Linked DNA regions of Homo sapiens. The protein of the gene in region 1 purifies or fractionates together with the protein of each later gene. This does not show direct contact. Each region holds a gene or a part of one and is shown in the gene's direction. Other genes may lie near its edges.

Region 1 (3,810 bases):
TTGGAAACGGGATATCACTAGTGGAAAATTCTGTATAATCCAGAAAAAAATGTAAGGTTTTAAAAGATTCAGGGAACTAAGTAACCATTTGCACAGCAGCTAAATGCTCACCAGCATACCTGCTGAGCTGTGTGGGCACTGGCAGAGAAACTGAGGAAAGCTGCCAGGCCCCATGGTGTCCCAGGCCTTCCCTCCCGTCTGTTTGCCTTTAGAGCAAGATTAGTGCTATAGGCATTTATACACAAATACCATAATATGGCCCAAAATCTTTACAATTTTTGAATTTTTAAAGTACTTTGACCATATTTTGCTTTTATGTTAATAGTATTCCAGTGAAATTCTGTGCATGGGGACACTGGAGCCCAGAAAAGTTAAGTGACTCATATTTTCTCACCAAGCGTGGGTGATGGAGCCATTCAGTTTTCCGATATTTTATTTTTTATATGAGTATTCCTTTAACTGGAAACTTTCCTAACAACAAACACCTAAAGATGTGCAGAGTTGCTTTTATTTTTGTTACCCCAGCTCCACGCCTTAACCCTCACTTTGAAATAGGATGTATCAACCCTATTTTGCAGATGAGGAAAGCAAGAGTCAGAGAGGTTAGACAACTCTTCCAGAGTCACACAGCTGGGGAGTAGCAGCTCCAGGAGTAGAAGCTGGGGCCGCTTCCTGGTGCACCGATGGTCTGCAGGTGTTTGTGGAAACTCGGGGGCCTCCGGGGCGACCTTGAGGACATGGACAAGGCTAAGCAGGGGTTCCCTTCACCCAGCCCTGCCCTTGGTTTACTCAGGAGTCAGACCAGCCCTAGTTTCCTGTGTTTCATGTATTGGCTTTTCATGTGAAACTCGAGGAGAGCTTGTCCGTTGCCACAAGCTGTTTTTCGAATGTCTCTACACAGTCCAGGCAGGAAATAGAAGCACTCACATCAGGAGCTCAGTGTCAGGCAGGCAAGGCTCCTGCAGGGGAGCCCCGCCCTGCTCAGGTGGCCTCATCTCCCCTCCCAGCTGGTGGTGCTGCCCTATCAGATGCTGCTGCATGCGGCCACTCGGCAGGCCGCGGGCATCCGGCTGCAGGACCAGGTGGTGATCATCGACGAGGCGCACAACCTGATCGACACCATCACGGGCATGCACAGCGTGGAGGTCAGCGGCTCCCAGGTGTGTGGGCCTCCCCTCCCCGGGCCAGGGCCTGCTGTGACGTAAAGGGACTTGGATGGTTCCTCCAGACACCTGGGCCAAGAGTTCCTCCGGAGGTGGGGCTTGATAGAGGGTGCACGAGTCAAGGCGGTGACCTCATCGGAGGCTGACCATGGCTTTCCAGTGCATCGGGGGACCCCGCTATGACAGAGTGCCTCATTTCCCTGCACCTCATCTGCCCCCATGCTCCTGAGTCCCTCCAGCCCTGGATGCCAGCAGCCAGTTCTGTAAGCCAGGGAGATGGCATGTGTGAGGCAGAAGTCCCCTCAGGATTGGATTTTGTCATTACTGAAGTTGTCTGGAGGGGACTGAATTGAGGAATGCTCAAGATCAGCGCAGGCTCCTCCTGCTGCCCTATCATGCGCCATGCATGGCACCAGGTGTCTCTGGTCTTCACGCTGACTCTGCCATGGGTGTGGTGTTCCTGTTTTACATTGGAAACTTGGAGATTCAAAGATGGTCAAGCTCTGTCCTGAGGTCATGCAGCTCATGAGTGTGGAGCTGGGGTGTGCCCACTGGTTTCTGACTGTGAAAACCCCCACGACATCCCACCAGCTCTACTGACCTGTGCCTGGGCTGAATTGAGGCTGGGATGTGATGGTGGCCTTGAACCATCACTCTTTGTAGACTCCAGGTCTTTTCCCAACCCGGTGGAAACTTAGCAGGGAGATTCCATACTTGAGGAATTCAGCCTCTTGCTTTTTCTCTGACCCACAGTGGACACTGGAGGAAAACTTCCCTTCCTTCCCTTTTCTCTTAGCTCCCACCAGCCTAAGGGCTGTGGAAACCCGTACCTTTTGTCTGCAGCCAGCCCCCTCTCCTCCCTTTGGTGGCTTCCTGTGTGTCCAGGGCCAGCATCTTCTAGGTGAATCTAAGATGTCAGTACCTTAGCCCTCAGCTGCTTGCTCAGAGCCTGGTTTGTGTTCTTTCCCCAGCTCTGCCAGGCCCATTCCCAGCTGCTGCAGTACGTGGAGCGATACGGGTGAGATGTGACCCTCTGAGGTAGTGGGACAGTCCCTTGGTGGCCCCCTGCGTGGGCCTCTGAGAGGCAGGCAGCACTTTGGTTCCCACCTCTGGCCCGGGCTGTGGCGGGGTGGAGCTGCATGCCATTCATGTCCTAGGCACATCATGGTGTGTGCTGCACACAGACCTGGAAGGCTGGGGACTGACCGCTGGCTCTGAGGCCTGGGGCCGTGGCCAGCCTGCTCTCTGGGAAAGGATTTGTAGCTTGTGACCCAGTTTGAGAGGCACCGGGCAGCAAGGCTTCCACTGGGGTGGGCGGGGCGAGTCGCCATCAGGGCACCACCACTTAATGTCCGTTGGCTTCTTCTCAGGAAGCGTTTGAAGGCCAAGAACCTGATGTACCTGAAGCAGATCCTGTATTTGCTGGAGAAATTCGTGGCTGTGCTAGGGGGTGAGAGCCTCGTCCCCCTGCTGACCCCGGGCCTGCAAAACTCGCTGGGCTGCTTTTTCCTTGGATGCCCATCAGGACACCTCAGTTCTCTGTGTTTTTAAGAAGGGTCGGCCGGGTGCGGTGGCTCACGCCTGTAATCCCAGCACTTGGGAGGCCGAGGCAGGTGGTTCACCTGAGGTTAGGAGTTTTGAGACCAGCCTGGCCAACATGGTGAAATCCCATCTCTACTAAAAATACAAAAAAATTAGCTGGGAGTGTTGCCGTGGCCTGTAGTCCCAGCTGCTCCAGAGGCTGAGACAAGAGAATTGCTTGCTCAAACCCGGGAGGCGGAGGTTGCAGTGAGCCGAGATTGTGCCACTGCAGTCCAGTCTGGGCGACAGAGTGAGAATCAGTCTCAAAAAAAAAAAAAAAAAAAAAAAAGAAGGGTCTTGGTCATTGATTTAGAAAATTCTTGTTCTTTGTAGCTTAGTTGAGTTGTCTGACTTGAGCTTTATTTAGACCCATGGGTTCTTTGCCCATGTTCTGAGGACTTTTTATTTCAGGCCCTGCTCTGGGGGGATATTAAGGATACAGCATCACATAGACACACGGTGTTTCCGTGATAGGCATAGTTCTGTGGGTTGTTCGAAGCACTTGCATATGCGGTTTTGTGTGCCCTGTGAGAACGCAGTGCTGGTATTTGAATCCTTGTTGATAGACGCATAAACTAGAGCTCGGAGCAAGGGCTGCTCCCAGCACGGGAGCCTGGGATCTTCTGACTCCAGCTCCCACGCCTCTTTGCATGACCCTGTCACGTCCCCTTCTTTTATGATGGGGCACCCCCTTGGAAGGCGTCTGTGGAAGTGGAAGCTGCAGAAAGCCTGTGGGAGCTCCTGGCGGGAGCTGGTCTCGTGTTGCTGCTCTGAGCCACCAGCTCTGCTTTGCCTCAGGCTCACCAGTGGCCTGGGCAGCTCCTCTGTGCTCCGGTGCCCTGCATACCTTGGTCTGGCTGCTGTGTCCCGGCCTCCTGGAGAAGGGGTGAAAAACATGAACTTACAGGGCTTTGGGTTCCACGTGCAAGCACGTGAGTCAGACATGGGAGGCTCCTGGACCCACCTGCCCTCTCAGTGGGTCCGTTGCATGCTATAAACAGTGAAAAGCAAAACAAAGCCATTTAAATACAGATGCTCTTCTTACTTGATGTGCAGTGTGGAGGGA
Region 2 (3,810 bases), on another chromosome or scaffold:
CACAGTGGCTTACACCTGTAATCCCAGCACCTTGGGAGGCTAAGGCGGGCAGATTACTTGAGGCCAGGTGTTTGAGATCAGCCTGGGCAATGTGGTGAAACCAGTCTCTACGAAAAAATTTAAGAATGAGCTGGGTGTGGTGGCACATGCCTGTAGAGTCTGAGGTTCAAACTGGGCATGGTGACAAGTGCCTGTAATCCCAGCTACTCGAGGCCAAGGCAGGAGGATCCCTTGAGCCCAGGAGTTTGACGCTGCAGTGAGCTATGATCACGCCACTGCACTCTAGCCTAGGTGACAGAGTGGACACCCTTACTTTGAGAAACAAAAAGAGTTTGGGCTTCATAGTGAGGGCAGGGAGGAGTCAAGGATTTCAGTTAGGGAAAAATGTTTTAATAGGGCCGGGTGTGGTGGCTCACACCTGTAATCCCAGCACTTTGGGAGGCCAAGGCGAGTGGATCACCTAAGGTCAGGAGTTCACGACCAGCCTGGCCAACATGGCAAAACCCCGTCTCTACTAAAAATAAAAATTAGGCAGGCATGGTGGTGGGCGTCTGTAATCCCAGCTACTCAGGAGGCTGAGGCAGGAGAATCGCTTGAACCCGGGAGGCGGAGGTTGCAGTGAGCCGAGATTGTGCCATTGTACTCCAGCCTGGGCAACAAGAGCAAAGCTCCATCTCAAAAAAAAAAATGTTTTAATAGGTGTGTACTTTAGGAAAGTGGTCGTGGTTACAGGATGGGAAATGGATTTGAATGGGAGCATGGAGACCACTTAATGGCCCATTGATAGCAATCAGACGAGATAATGGGCTTAAGAAAGTGGTAGCCGGGATGGAGAGAAGGGATGGAGAGAAGTAAAGGACGCTGGAGACGAAGGAGGAGGATGGTGAAGCCCTGGTTATTGAAGTACTCAGGGTGAGGATGAGGCCAAACCAAGATGATGGCAACCTCAACTTCATGGCATAGACAGTCCATGGTGGGAAACATGGGTGGGGCCTCAGGTTTGTACAGGAGAATGAAGTGTTCAGTTTTGAAGATGCCGAGGTGAGTACCTGTAGTCCCAGCTACTCGGGAGGCCAAAGCAGGAGGATCACTTGAGCCTGGGAATTGGAGGCTGCGGTGAGCCTTGATCACACCACTGCACTCCAGCCTGGGTGACAGCCAGAGTGCATCTCTAAAAGAATAAAAAGAACTTGAGGTGAGAGTTCCATGGGGCATCCAGTCCATGTGGATAAATTTGTAGCCACGTTTACTACACAGGCTGTGTAGCTGGGGAGATTCAGCTCCTAAAGCTTACAAATTAACCAGGTTTTGTGTTTTTTTTTTTTTGTTTTTGAGACAGGGTCCCACTCTTTCCCAGGCTGGAGTGCAGTGGTGCAGTCACAGCTCACTGCGGCCTCCACTTCTCAGGCTCAACCGATCCTCCCATTTTAGCCTCCCGAGTAGCTGGGAGTACAGGAGCACACCACCACACCTGGCTAATTTTGTTTATTTTTTGAGGAGACAGAGTCTCACTGTGTTGCCCAGGCTGGCCTCAGGCCTCAAGTGATTGTCCTGCCTTGGCCTCCCAAACTGCTAGGATTACAGGCCTGAGCCATTGTGCTCAGCCGAGTTTTAACCTGCTTGTTTGTTCTTTTTTCTATCTTTTTTATGTAGTCATCCAGAAGCAAGTTTTAACCGGTTTTAATGATCATTTTCGCCGTAGGTCTTTGCAAGGGAAGGAAATGTGCCCAACATCATCATTGCGGTGAGTACCCAGCCCTGGGCCTGTTGAGTGTCTCCATGTCTCATCCCACTGTCCGCTGAACTGCTTTCTTGTGCACAGCGCTGCCTCCCTGGAGAGCCCCTTCCCATTCCCCCGGCAAAGGGAAGTGTTTCACTCTAGTTGGGAGGCCTGGGGTTGGTTGCTGTATTTTTTTTTATTTATTTATTTATTTTTTTTTCTGAAACGGAGTCTCACTCTGTCACCCAGGCTAGAGTGCAGTGGTGCAATCTCTGCTCACCGCAACCTCTCCCTCCCAGGTTCAAGCGATTCTTGTACCTCAGCCTCCCGACTAGCTGGGATTACAGGTGCCTGCCATCACGCCCAGCTAAGTTTTGTATTTTTAGTAGAGACGGGGTTTCGCCATGTTGGCCAGTCTGGTCTTGAACTCCTGACCTCAGGTGATCTGCCCGCCTTGGCCTCCCAAAGTGCTGGGATTATAGGTGTGAGCCACTGTCTCCGGCCAGCTGTATTGATCTGTGTGTGCTGTGGGTGGAATGCAGGGGTCAGAGGTGACGGAGATGCAAACAGCAGTGAACATAACTCAAGAGCTACCTGAGGTCCTTCTGGTGGTTTGAAGTCTTTACTGGAGATCTCATTCCCAGGGCCCTCCAGGAACCGGCAAGACCACAAGCATTCTGTGCTTGGCCCGGGCCCTGCTGGGCCCAGCACTCAAAGATGCCATGTTGGAACTCAATGCTTCAAATGACAGGTAGGTCTTAGAGTCAGACCTGTAGGGGGGCGGGTGCTCTGCATTGAGAATTGTTACAGAAACAACCTTTCTCAGCATTGGGTTGTATGCGAAGCCTTGCCAGCTATGTGATTTCCTCCACCCCTTCCCAGTGAAAGAGCGTTGCTCACTTGTCAACTTGCCGGTTTATTTTTTTTGTTTTCATGGAAATTTTCAAAAACTGTTCTTCTCAGCCAGGCATGGTGGCTCACACCTGTAATTCCAGCACTTTGGGAGGCCGAGGCAGGTAGATCACCTGAGGTCAGGAATTCGAGACCATCCTAGCCAACATGGTGAAACCCCGTCTCCACTAAAAATACAAAACTTAGCTGGGCGTGGTGCTGGGTGCCTGTAATCCCAGCTACTCAGGAGGTTGAGGCAGGAGGATTGCTTGAACCCAGGAGAAGGAGGTTACAGTGAGCTGAGATCGCACCGTTGAGCACTCCAGCCTGGGTGACGAGCAAAACTCCATCTCCAAAAAAAAAAAACCAACTAGTTTTTCTCTTTTTTCAAGTTTAAAAATTTTTGTAGAGATGGGATCTCACTATGTTGCCCAGGCTGATCTCAAACCCTTAGCCTCAAGCAATCCTCCTGCCTTGGCCTGCTAAGTTGCTAGGACTATAGACACATGCCACCATGCCAGCTTTTTCTTGTGGAGACGGGATCTCACTATGTTGCCCAGTCTGGTCTCGAACTCCGGGACTCAAGCGATCCTCCTTGCATCAGCCTCCCAAAGTGCTTGGATTACAGACGTGAGCCACTACACTGGGATGTTCAACCAGTAAATATAATGCAAAATTCCAAAATGTGAAAAAAAAACCCAGATCTGAAATATTTCTGGTCCCAAGCATTAGGGATAAGGGATACTCAGCCTGTATATTTAAAGTGTATGGAAGGCCGGCCAGGCATGGTGGTTCATGCCTATAATCCCAGCACTTTGGGAGGCTGAGGCAGGTGGATCGCTTGAGTCCAGGAGTTTGAGACCAGCCTAGGTGACATAATGAAACCCCATCTCTGTATAAAAGTAAAAATAAAGTGTTCTGGAGGATGTGTATAAGTTAATATGCAAATACTATACCATTTCATATAAGGGACTTGAGCAAAAGTGAATTTTGGTGTCTGAGGAAGGGCCTAGCACCAGTCCCCAGGAACACCAAGGGACAGCTGCATATTGTTCACTCCTTGATTCTTCAGTTAGGGAAAATGTCTGGAGGATATTGGCATCTGAAGATTCATAGTCTGAGATTTTGCTTATTGATCAATTTCACCATCAGTAGCATTTAGAATGTTGCTATTGGTGTCTCTGCAGTTCTGTACTGTT

Evidence for each region.
Region 2: the proteins of DDX11 (region 1) and RFC2 purify together in Homo sapiens (affinity purification with western blotting, with the first as the bait; one study listed by BioGRID). This does not show direct contact.

The regions. Positions count from the first base shown.
Region 1 is NC_000012.12:31,090,712-31,094,521, forward strand, and holds part of DDX11 (ATP-dependent DNA helicase DDX11), read left to right. Parts: intron 1-1,007; coding exon 1,008-1,160; intron 1,161-2,134; coding exon 2,135-2,181; intron 2,182-2,533; coding exon 2,534-2,613; intron 2,614-3,810. UniProt on the Homo sapiens protein: DNA-dependent ATPase and ATP-dependent DNA helicase that participates in various functions in genomic stability, including DNA replication, DNA repair and heterochromatin organization as well as in ribosomal RNA synthesis.
Region 2 is NC_000007.14:74,247,673-74,251,482, reverse strand, and holds part of RFC2 (replication factor C subunit 2), read left to right. Parts: intron 1-1,702; coding exon 1,703-1,744; intron 1,745-2,262; exon of another isoform or gene 2,263-2,364; coding exon 2,365-2,471; intron 2,472-3,810.